Regions from separate parts of the Homo sapiens genome. Here region 2 is linked to region 1. A link means that fine-mapping ties the variant in region 1 to the expression of a gene that starts in the linked region. Tissue or cell type: whole blood. Region 1 holds a variant in brackets; the other region holds the start of a gene. All regions are shown on one strand. Distances are between the middles of the regions.

Region 1 (5,000 bases):
AACCTAGGGGTGAAAATGACAGTGGACTGAACAAAGGTGATAATTTTGGCTAGAGGGAGAAGGTCGTGAAGATAATGAGAAATTATTTGAGTCTGGCTATGTTTTGAGGGAAGAACCAACAAGATTTCCTAAAGTATAAAATATGAAAATAAGAGTTATCAACAAAACTGACGTTAAGGTTTTTGGCATGAGCAATTTTAAGAATGGAGTTATTTTCTGAGATGAGGAAAAAACAAATTTTGCAGGAAGATTACTAGTTTGATTTGGGTCAAAGTAAGTCTGTGATGTATATTTCACATTCAAATAAAAAGTTTCAGAGGGATGTCCAAATAAAGATTAAAATATGGGAGCTGTCAGTGGATATTTACAGTTACAAAATTGTATAATCTTACCAAGAAAGTGATTGTAAATAGAGAAGGGGTCTGAGGATTATGATCTGGGTCACTCCAACAGATTGGGGACATGAAGAGGATACAGGAAAGGAGACTAACATGAACTGGTCAGTAAGGTAAAACACTAAGAATGTGATACCTTATATGTCAAGTAAAAGGAACAGGTGCAAGCAAATGTTTCAAATTCTGCTATTGGTCAACTAAAATGAGGACCAATCATTGACTACTGACTTAGAAACGTAGCGATCATTGATGATGACCTTACCAACAATACTTTACCTCTGGTGCAATTTTAAAAGGTAGAAGGCTGAATGACCTGAATGGATTGGATTTAAGGGTAAATACGAAGAAAGGGATCGGAAGCAATGAGTAAGGAAAGATCTTTGTAGGAATTTTGTTGGAAAAAAGAACTGGCAAATTAATTGTATATTGGCAAGGTATGTGTGGTCAAGTGAGGGTTTTGTTTAGTTTTAGTTGGGAGAAAGTTTTTCATGTTTTTATATGCTTACTAGAATTTCTGCAGAAATTGAAAAATGATTACATAGGAAACAAAGAGAATAAGAGCTTGTCTTTAGGTAGGTAAGAGGGGATGGGGCCTGATGCACAATTGGAGGGATTTTCTTCAGATAGCAGAATGAAGGGAGATGAGAGAAGTCAGAGTGCACAGGTCTAGATGCAGGTAGGTGATAGACATGATGGTGAGAGCCTTTGGCAACTCTGTTCTATTTGTTTACATTTTTTGAGAATAAACAGCTGAGAGTGAGGATAGCAGGTGTTTAAGATATGGAAAGAGAGGAGAAGTGAAATAGTTGACCAGAAAAGAGAGTTAATCTGATTTATTTTCTAAAAAGAAAATTACTGTGGTACTAAATGAAATCTACAGAATGTTTACATATTCAAATTGTAGGTTAATTATGAACACACATCAAGCCATCACATAGTTAGCTGTAGAGTTTAAGCCATCAATAGTCATTTAGTTTCATTATCTCACTTGTTTGGTTTTAATTAACTTTCTATGTTTTTGTTTAACTTTGTGTACTATTAGTATCGAAAGGTTGTAGCTTGTTAATAGAGATGCTTATTTAGCATTTTCAAGTGAAAAACAACATTAATAACAGGTACAACATTATTATTAATAATAATAATGCCAATTATTCAGAAGTGGCAGGTCTATACAAAACTCTCTGACACTCTATTTTATCAGTTATTTTATACTTGATTAGGCTTATATAACATTTTCTACTTCTGCAATTTTCTGATAATTAATAAAGAATTTCCTTTACACAAATCTCAGGCTTTATTTTAGGGAATGGAAGTCTGTGCTACTAAAAATTGCATAGTGTTGTGTGTCTGGGCAGGCTTTTCAAAGACCTCTGTTATCACTTATATCCAAAGTGATAAGTCTGGGCGTGGTGGCATAGGCCATAACTCCAGAACTTTGGGAGGCTAAGGCAGCAAGATCGCTTGAGCCCAGGAGTTGGAGACCAGCCTGGGCAATATAGTGAGACCTGGTCTCTATAAAGAAAAGAAAATGTGATAAATAGGAAACAAATATCAATAAGAAGCAAGTAAATATTCTTATGGGTAATTAGAGCATCTTTAAGAAAAAAACATCAATTTGTATCAATAACCTTGGATGAGAATATGGTAGAAGGGTAGATTTTGGACTAGATACAACTGTTTATTAAAAAAATTCCAATTTGGCTACTAAGAATGAAGCATATATTTCATAGGAATCATGTCCTTGTATGGGCCACAATGTCAGTGTTAATTTTTACATGTTATTATAATATATGCATGCAATGGTTTTAAAATTGTCCCTTAACAATATTATGTGTTAGTAAAACATAATATTTATTTATCCATTATGTTGTGCAAAACTACCTTTGGTGTATCTATAGAAGGATGTCAGAAATACTTTATAGGATTTAAATTGGGGCAAAACCGTTTGTTTCATTTCTTCTATTCCCTTAACAAAGATAAAGTGAGTTTGTTTGAACTGGAACATAGTTAAGTGTTGATAGGCCATGTCAGTCTTCTGTATGAACTCCTCACCCCCACCAACTTCCTGTTTCTCTGAAGTGCATGCATACAGTG[A/T]TATATGTTTTGGTTTTCTAAGAAGGGAAAGGAAGCAGAAGAATACAGAATGAGCTTGTGAGTTTTGAAACTTTGGGACAAACATGGAAGTTGGTGAAAAACCATTTGTCAGTTTGCTTGACAGGAAAAAAAAATGAAACAAATGCATGCATGGACACAAAATGGTGTATCTAGTGTCTGCATAGGGCTTCCTATGTGCTAGGCACTATTACAAGTGTTTACATTTGTTAACACATTTAATTCTCATGAAACTACCACAACAAAAACTATTTTTATCCACATCTTACAGATTATGAAACTAAGGCACCCGGAGATAAAGTAACCTCCTAAAGGTCAAAGGTCACATAGCTATCAAATGTGAGAGCTGGTATTTGAATACAAGCAGTCTGGCTTTTTTTAAATTTTTTTTAATATTTTATTTTTGAGACAGGGCCTGGCTCTGTTGCCCAGGCTGGAGTGCAGTGCTGTGATCATGCCATCATGGCTCAACTGCAACCTCCACCTCGCCAGCTCAAGCCATCCTCCAACCTGAGCCTCCCGAGTAGCTGGGACTACAGACATGTGCCACTATGCCCAGATAAACTTTTGTAGTTTTTGCAGAGGCAGGGTTTCACTGTATTGCCCACGCTGGTCTTAAACTCCTGAGCTCAAGTGATCCTCCCACCTCACCCTCGCAAAGTTCTGAGACTACAGGCTTGAGCACTGTGCCTGCCCTGGCCTTCTTAACCACTGTTTGTTACCTTTTCTATCATAAGTATAGAAGAGTAATCTAATATCAAACTGGCTGATTAAGGTGACAGGTTGAATTATTGTCATCAGTTTTTTACAACCTAAACATTTTTGCTTCTGATGAAATGTTCTTTAAAAATTCTTTTCAGCATTCCTTTTTGCATTCTTCTTCTTATAACGTTTTAGCTAAATATGCAAATTCATTATCATTCACGAGTTCACATGTTGTTTAAGTAGGAAGGACCACATGGGAAAATTCATAAAAACTTTGAACACAAGTTTCTGTGTTAAAAATGCAAAGAACTGAATGTTCATATATCTTTTGTTTGAAGAATTTAGCTTAAAATATGAAGAAAACTACATGGAAACACTTTCCCTGAAATAAGTTAAAATTGTGATGTCATTCACTGACTATTATTGCTTTGCCACTGACTTCTGAAGAAATCCTAGGAGATAAATTGCTTGTGGTGTTTTCTCCCCAGTCTTATCACAAGTCATTGCTAATGAGTGGCTTCTTCATGATGTAAACTAGTTTCAAATTCAGCATATATTGTAATTCTTCCAGTTCTCATTAAGCACACTGTTTATATATTATGTCTCAACATAAATATATGAATGGAAATTTAATCCTTTCTATGACAGGTCATACACATTTTAAAGGAACTCTTATAGTTTTTTTTTTCTTTCTCTGGGTCTTGACTCTGACAGAGGGGAAAAAGAAAAATAAAAGCACTATCTATATTAATCATTCTCAGGAATAAGGCTGATTCTTTGAAAAGTGAGTTGTTATAGTTGAAAGGACAGGTTTAAAATTTGGATTAGAAATTGAAACCTGACTCCTCTGCTTCCCACATCTGCACCACCCAAAGAAGTCACTTACTCTCAATAAACAGAGAATAATAAATGCCTACCACATAGATTTTCTGTGAAGGTTAAGTTAGAATAAAGGAGAGGTGAATATTTCACCACAGTATTTGGCACTAAGCAGGGAATCACTAAATGTTAAATCATCCTAAAATATTAATTGAAGTCTTAAGAAATAATGTGATAATAAAGTAGCCACGTAAACTTCTAGATATTGTTTTTCCTCAAAAAGGAAAATAAACTAAATGGTGTGAACATTAAAACATCTATTAATATTTTATATAGTGGGATACATGTAATTTTAATATATTTTTTATAATTTTCTATTTTTTCCTAAATTTTATGTAATAAAGATGTATTTCTTGTATCTTTTTAAGCAACTATTTTTTCACCCCTGTTTGGAGTTCTATAGTACTTGTGTTTATTCTTACAGCTCAGTTTACCAGATATGACTAGGCATGCGTATACGTTTTCTGATATATCTAGGCTGGATTTCGTGAGCTCTTTCAGTCTATAGAATCACATTTCTTTAGCTCAGAAATTTGCTTCAATTAAATATTTAATTATAGATTCTTTCTCTGTTCCTTCTTTTATTGTTATTCCTATTACTTGGGTATGAGGTCACCTGAATATATCTGCCAAGTCTCATCTTTTCTCTCATGTTTTCCTTCTCTTCTGGATCATTCAGGCTACTGATTAAGATCTCAGCAATGACTGTGCTCACCTTCAATATATCTTCTGATTTCCTAAGTTGAGACATCTGAATCTTCTACTTGTTTTTTTTTTTGTGTGTGTGTGTATATCCAGAAATTCTTGTTAGTGGTAGATTTGAAAATGTTTAAGTGCTCCATTTTTTTTTTCTGTTCGGGAAGTTTCCTGACTTTCCAAATAGTTTGATAACCCATGTTTTCTTAGACA
Region 2 (5,371 bases), 110 kb before region 1:
AATAATAGCAGGAGAGATAAATTTGAAAGGCTTTAATATTAGATACCTGGGTCAATTTAAAATGCCATACCAGACTATATTTTGATGTGCTAACACTGACCTCTCAATAGTTCTTCTGTAAATCATCAAGGAAACTTATGTAATAATCAATTTATACAATTAATGTGGTAGTTTTGGAATTAAATGCATTACCTTATAAAAGAGAAATACAAAGCAATGTAGTGAAACTTCCCAAGCAAATATATGTGTATCAACTGAAATACACATATACATATCATATACATATATATACACACACGTGTATGTGTACTTACAAATAATGCGTGCATACATATACATATGTATGTATAAAATATGTGTATATGTGTTTATATATGTAAACATAAATATAGACATAGACTTGTGAAAGAGACCAATGAAAGCAGATAATTATAATTTGAAATGGTGATTTTAATATGTATTCAGTCATAAAAGTGGACCAACATCAATAGAAAGGAAAGGACAGAGAGCTGAGGGTGTGTAAACTGCTGCTCTCTTTTTGCTGTTGGGTCAACATGTCAGCAATGCTTTCATATGGAGCAGCTTGCAGACATGAAACAAGGTGGTTCCTCCTTTCTTTGCCTTTGGATTGTGCTGTTGTTAGTGTCCAGAGACCAGACTGTCCATATAGGGTTCTTTTTGTGATTCTTTATTATAATCCCCTGAGGAAGTCAGACGAGCCTGGGGTTACTGGAGACAGTGTCTTGCTTGGCGTAGTTATCATCCACAAATCATCTGCTATAAATATATCTCAGAAGGATCATCATCAGGCCAGCTCAGTAGCCTGCAATTTATGAAGGTTATGAGAAACAATGTGAAGGGTGAAGCGCTTTATTAAGGGTGGCTTTCTTTTCTGACCCTGCCCTGACTTCTACTTGAATATAAATGATCCTGGGAGTAAGTGAACCTTTCCATTTAGGATTTAGGCTTTTAAATTGTCCCTTTCAGCTGTTATTCTTATGCCACTGTGTCATGACTTTAAGAATTTCTAAGAAACATCAAAATCAGTGTTACAAGATAATATGAGAAATCACTAGATGCAAAATAGAGGTATAACTGAACCTCACATTACATTCTTTCCTTTTTATGTATAAACCATCCAAAGCATTTTTTCCTCCGTTTTTATTCCACATCTGTCATGCTTTTTTTTCCTCTGGATAAAGTAACAGAACTGACCAAATTGCCTTGCGAAAATCATAATTACGATCTCTAGGGAAGTTGAAATAAATAAAATGTTTTTCTCCTTTGTGTTGCTCAATGTTCTTTGTTTTTAAAAGAAAATGTGTTGCTTAAACGGTGTTTCAAAATTTGTTCTGGACATAAACCCTAATTATTTCCTTTTAACATTTCCTTAAATGAATAAAAAATATTGTAAAGAACCAAAATGACACAAAACCAAAATGCCACCCAGGCTGCTCTCTTGCCGGTGATTTGTTACTGGGAAAATAGTTAAAGCCTGCTGGGGAATTATTAACTGTTTCCCCTTACAGTGTTTATCCCAGGCATTCGTTTAAGACGGGAAAGCCTTGAAGAGGGTCACTCTATTAATATGCATTAAGAAGTAAAGGACCAATTTTAATATTTCAAACAACTCCAGTGGATAACAGACCATAAACTTCCTGTTTTCACTATCAATCTCTTTTAAAATGGTGTTCTTGGCTATCCATAATCGCCCCAGGGGAGAGAAACAAGCGGAGGAAAAAAATGCAAGAGTGAGGGGAACAAATGATGGAAAATTGCTTTATTCAACTTCACCTGCCGCTCGAGAAACTCACCCTTACGAAGATTCCAGCACTTTATATGAATTACCCATTATGGTTTCCTCCCACCACATCACTGCACTATTTTAGCACTTGTTTTGCAAACCACCAACTGCGTTTACAAGTAGAAACATAATCAGGAGGCGAATGACCTTTTGTAGCATGTATCTGAAGCTGGTTTATCAGACACTTCGTCAGCCAACTGTCCAGGAGGCAAAATGACTATCTATGATGATAGATAGACAGACAGATAGATAGTTAGATTAAAAGGTGGGGAAACATCCCTTTTCCCTTTTTCCTTTCTATATAATCTGGTTTTTTCTCTTCACCCCTTTTCTCGCTTCTTCCCACCCCGTCCCCAAACCTGTTACTAGGGAAACTTGAAAAAGAATCAGATACATTAAGACTACAAAACGAAACAAAAGTTTAGACCCCGAAACCATGATTCCATTGCCAAGCACAAAGCAATGCAAGAGCCCAACGTCGGTCGCCGCACCGCGATCCTGACAAAGCCTGTATGGAGCCAGAACAAATAAGATGTTAATTGCAGCCTCGCAGAGAAAAAAATACTATTGTTCCAGCCAGAGACACTCAGCAGCTCGGTAGCTGGGATGTGCCCCCTCCGCTGCGGACTGGATCAATTCTGAATCCCGGTACTGAAATGACAGCTCTCTGGCTGCGACAGGTCTGCGCTGAAAGAAAGAGAAAGACGATCAAGTCCAGCATTCACTTCCCACCCTTCAGAGTCGCCTTCCCATCCTCCGCACCCCCCTGCCTCGCCTCCCAGTGAGTTTCTCTTACAGTTGGTCGCCGCCAGCCCCAGCGGTGGGAACTGAGGATGCAAAAACCTCCCAGACGCAGAAAATACCGCTTTCGGGACGTGCTTGGGTTTGAGTAGCCGTGACGTGCAGGCGAACCGCGGCCCTGGCTGGAGCTCCGTGGAGCCCCCCTCCCGCCAGCCTCTCCCCCGCCCTCCCGCCGGGACTCCCTCCTCTCCCACCCCGCGGCTCCCTTCGCCTTCTCTCTCACACACCCGCCCGCGCCCCCGGCAGGCAGAACTCCAGGAAGTCGCAGCGGCCGCGCCGCGCGAGCCGAGCCTCTGGCGGGCGGCGGGGCGCACCGCAGCTGTGCATAAGAAGGGCGCGCGGCACCCGGGACGCGCGCGCACACGAGCACGCGGGAGGCCGCCGCGCGGACGCGCTCCCGGGACACGCGCACCCCCCGCGCGCGCGCCCAAGGGAGAGCGAGCACTGCGCGCCGGCGCGCACACCCGAGACAGAGCTTTACTATCTCGCTCCCTCTCGCGCCTCCCTCCTCGCTGGGCATTCAAACAGCTTTCCGACATCACCAGCCAAGGATTTTTTTCCCCGCTCTCCTTAGTCGCCGTCCGTCCATCAGTACCTGCAGGGGGGAGGAGGAGGAGGGAGGAAAGCGGAAAGAGGAAAAAGCATAAGCTTGAGCCTTCCGATCCGACCACGAATACTCCTGTAATAAACCCACCGCCCCAACAAATCTGCCATAGCAGCCGCCGCCGCCGCCGGTCACTTCTCGTCTCAGCGCTTTCTTTGCTTCTTGGTTTGTTGGGGGTAGCTTTTATGAAACAAATCTTTGCTATTAAGCCACTTACATTTTGGGGGGTTCCTTAGAGTCTCCCTTGGGGGGGCTTCTCCCTCCCTTTAGCCCCCCTCGGTTTGGAGGTTGGATTCAGTTGGATACGGCGCAAGGTTCTGGGCTCCTGCTGGCTTTTTTTTCCTCTCTCTCATCGACCCCCCTTTGGTTCCCACCCCCCACCTTTTGCTTTTCGTATGTATGCATTTTTAAAAATAAATCCTGATTTTGGAAGCTGAGCCGGGGAAAATGGGCAACGGTGATTGGGACCGAAGGGGAGTCTCTCCGTCACTGTTGCTGGGACGCGTGCCTGTGCTGGTGTCTTAGAGCAAGAGCCTCCCTGAGCTTTCGGAGTGGAAGGTAAGGAAGGGGGTCCAGGGGTCACCTTTTCTCTGCCGGGGGTCGCCACCGTGGAGCTTTGGGCTTAATGTTTGAGAAGGGAGGAAAATGAAAGGAAAGGCTGTTGCTGGCGGATGGGGAGGCTGTGAGCAGATCCGACTGTCTGCATTTACTTAAACGCCGCAGTTGAAAAGTTAGAGAAGTCTGGTTTTCAAGAGATGTGCTGGGTCAGAAGGAATAAGCGGAGAGACCTAGAAAATCTGGCAGTTTTGTGTGATTGGGGTAATTTTATGAGGGGAAAATTTTAGGTTAAAAGGAAGTTAAGAGAAGGCAGTGGGTCTTCTATTGGGGGGAAAAATCTGTGGAGTGATGGCGCCGTCTATGTTCGACTAAACTAAAGTGTCACCCAGAAAATCAGTTTTGAGAATAGCTAAACTCAATGCTGGTTTGCTTCTCAGCAAGAGATAAATAAATAAATAAATAAATAAATAAATAAATAAAACATCCTTGACACCTCCGTGGCCAGCCTTTGCCCCCGCCCCCACCCCTTCTTTAAGAGGGAAACACGGCTTTTTGAACGGGCCCTGCAGTCCAAAGGGGGGTGAGGGTAATGATTTATTTTTTATTATTTAGAACAAAATAAGACTGTGTACTCCAGACTGATTAAAAATAAAGAGCATTATATTGAGTGCGCTCTCTTGAGCAGGCATTAAAGTGAATTCAGAGCTATTTCCTCACTCTCTGATCATTGATGAGCACGGCATTGCAGACATGCACTGTCAAATAAATGAAAGCAAAAGTACCAATTTCATTAGGAAAAGACATACGACCTCTTTTTGAGTTCCTGATTATAAAATGAAGTCCCCTTTCATGGATGGAATTCCTAATTTAGACACTTATTGTCACATTGGCTCTCAACGCCTACACTCTATCCTGAAGAACACTGCGCAGACCTGCATTGCCTGCAAAGTGCAACACCAAAAAAAAAAAAAAAAAAAGGAAATTATTTCCAGAATTTCTTACAACTTTCTCTGTTTTTTTTTAACCTTTAAATGCTCATTGGCTTTATTTTCTCATGAAGAAAATGCATTATTCATTGAGCTATTTGCTTGAAACAGAGAACACTGTTTTGATGGTCCCAGCAGTTCTGATGTTATTTTAAACTGCTGCTATATAGAGATTTAGAGTTGGGGCTGTGTTTGCCTATATCAAGACATAGAATTTGAATTATAATCTGGAAAATGCAGATCTATCTTCAGGGACTTCGGTCACTGGATTTGGTGTGCATGCGTTGGTGTGTGTTATGCAATGGGAAGGAAGAGGGTTTTATCCTTTGATTCAGAGAAGACCCAGGCAAAGGCATGAAAACTCTTAACTATCTATATGTCTGTATGTCTGTCTCTGTTTACAGAACAGTGGAAGAGACTGCAGCCTAAAGACTTTTAAAATTAACTTGGCATCACTTTTATCAGCTCAAAGGCTAAACAAACAAACAAAAGCAGTGTCATTTATTCTAAGAAATAACTTCTTAAAGGTTAAAGCTGAAAAATATTCAAGTTATTTTTGGATAACAACTTACAGAGGTAAATATAACCAAGGACTACTTTATTATCCAAAGCCAGGGT

Evidence for each region. PIP is the estimated chance that this variant, and not a neighbour inherited with it, causes the effect.
Region 2: it holds the start of ADGRB3-DT, and the variant in region 1 is fine-mapped to the expression of ADGRB3-DT in whole blood (TOPMed, PIP above 0.99). The same link has a PIP of 0.9 or more in blood mononuclear cells.

What each region holds. Positions count from the first base shown.
Region 1 is chr6:68,738,484-68,743,483 of GRCh38, forward strand. All of the region lies in intron 3 of ADGRB3 (adhesion G protein-coupled receptor B3), which reads left to right. Among named protein-coding and RNA genes, the nearest start is that of ADGRB3, 110 kb to the left of the region's middle. The variant A/T (reference allele first, on the strand shown) is at 2,490.
Region 2 is chr6:68,632,234-68,637,604 of GRCh38, forward strand. It overlaps ADGRB3-DT (ADGRB3 divergent transcript), which reads right to left and starts at 2,091. Exons shown (of 2, transcript NR_125872.1): 1 at 1,952-2,091; 2 at 430-823. ADGRB3 (adhesion G protein-coupled receptor B3) reads left to right here and starts at 3,049. Exons shown (of 32, transcript NM_001704.3): 1 at 3,049-3,767; 2 at 5,158-5,329. It overlaps LOC127898563, which reads left to right and starts at 3,657. Exons shown (of 1, transcript NM_001414704.1): 1 at 3,657-3,734. The coding sequence starts at 3,657. The coding sequence ends at 3,734. RefSeq lists a silencer at 2,788-2,997.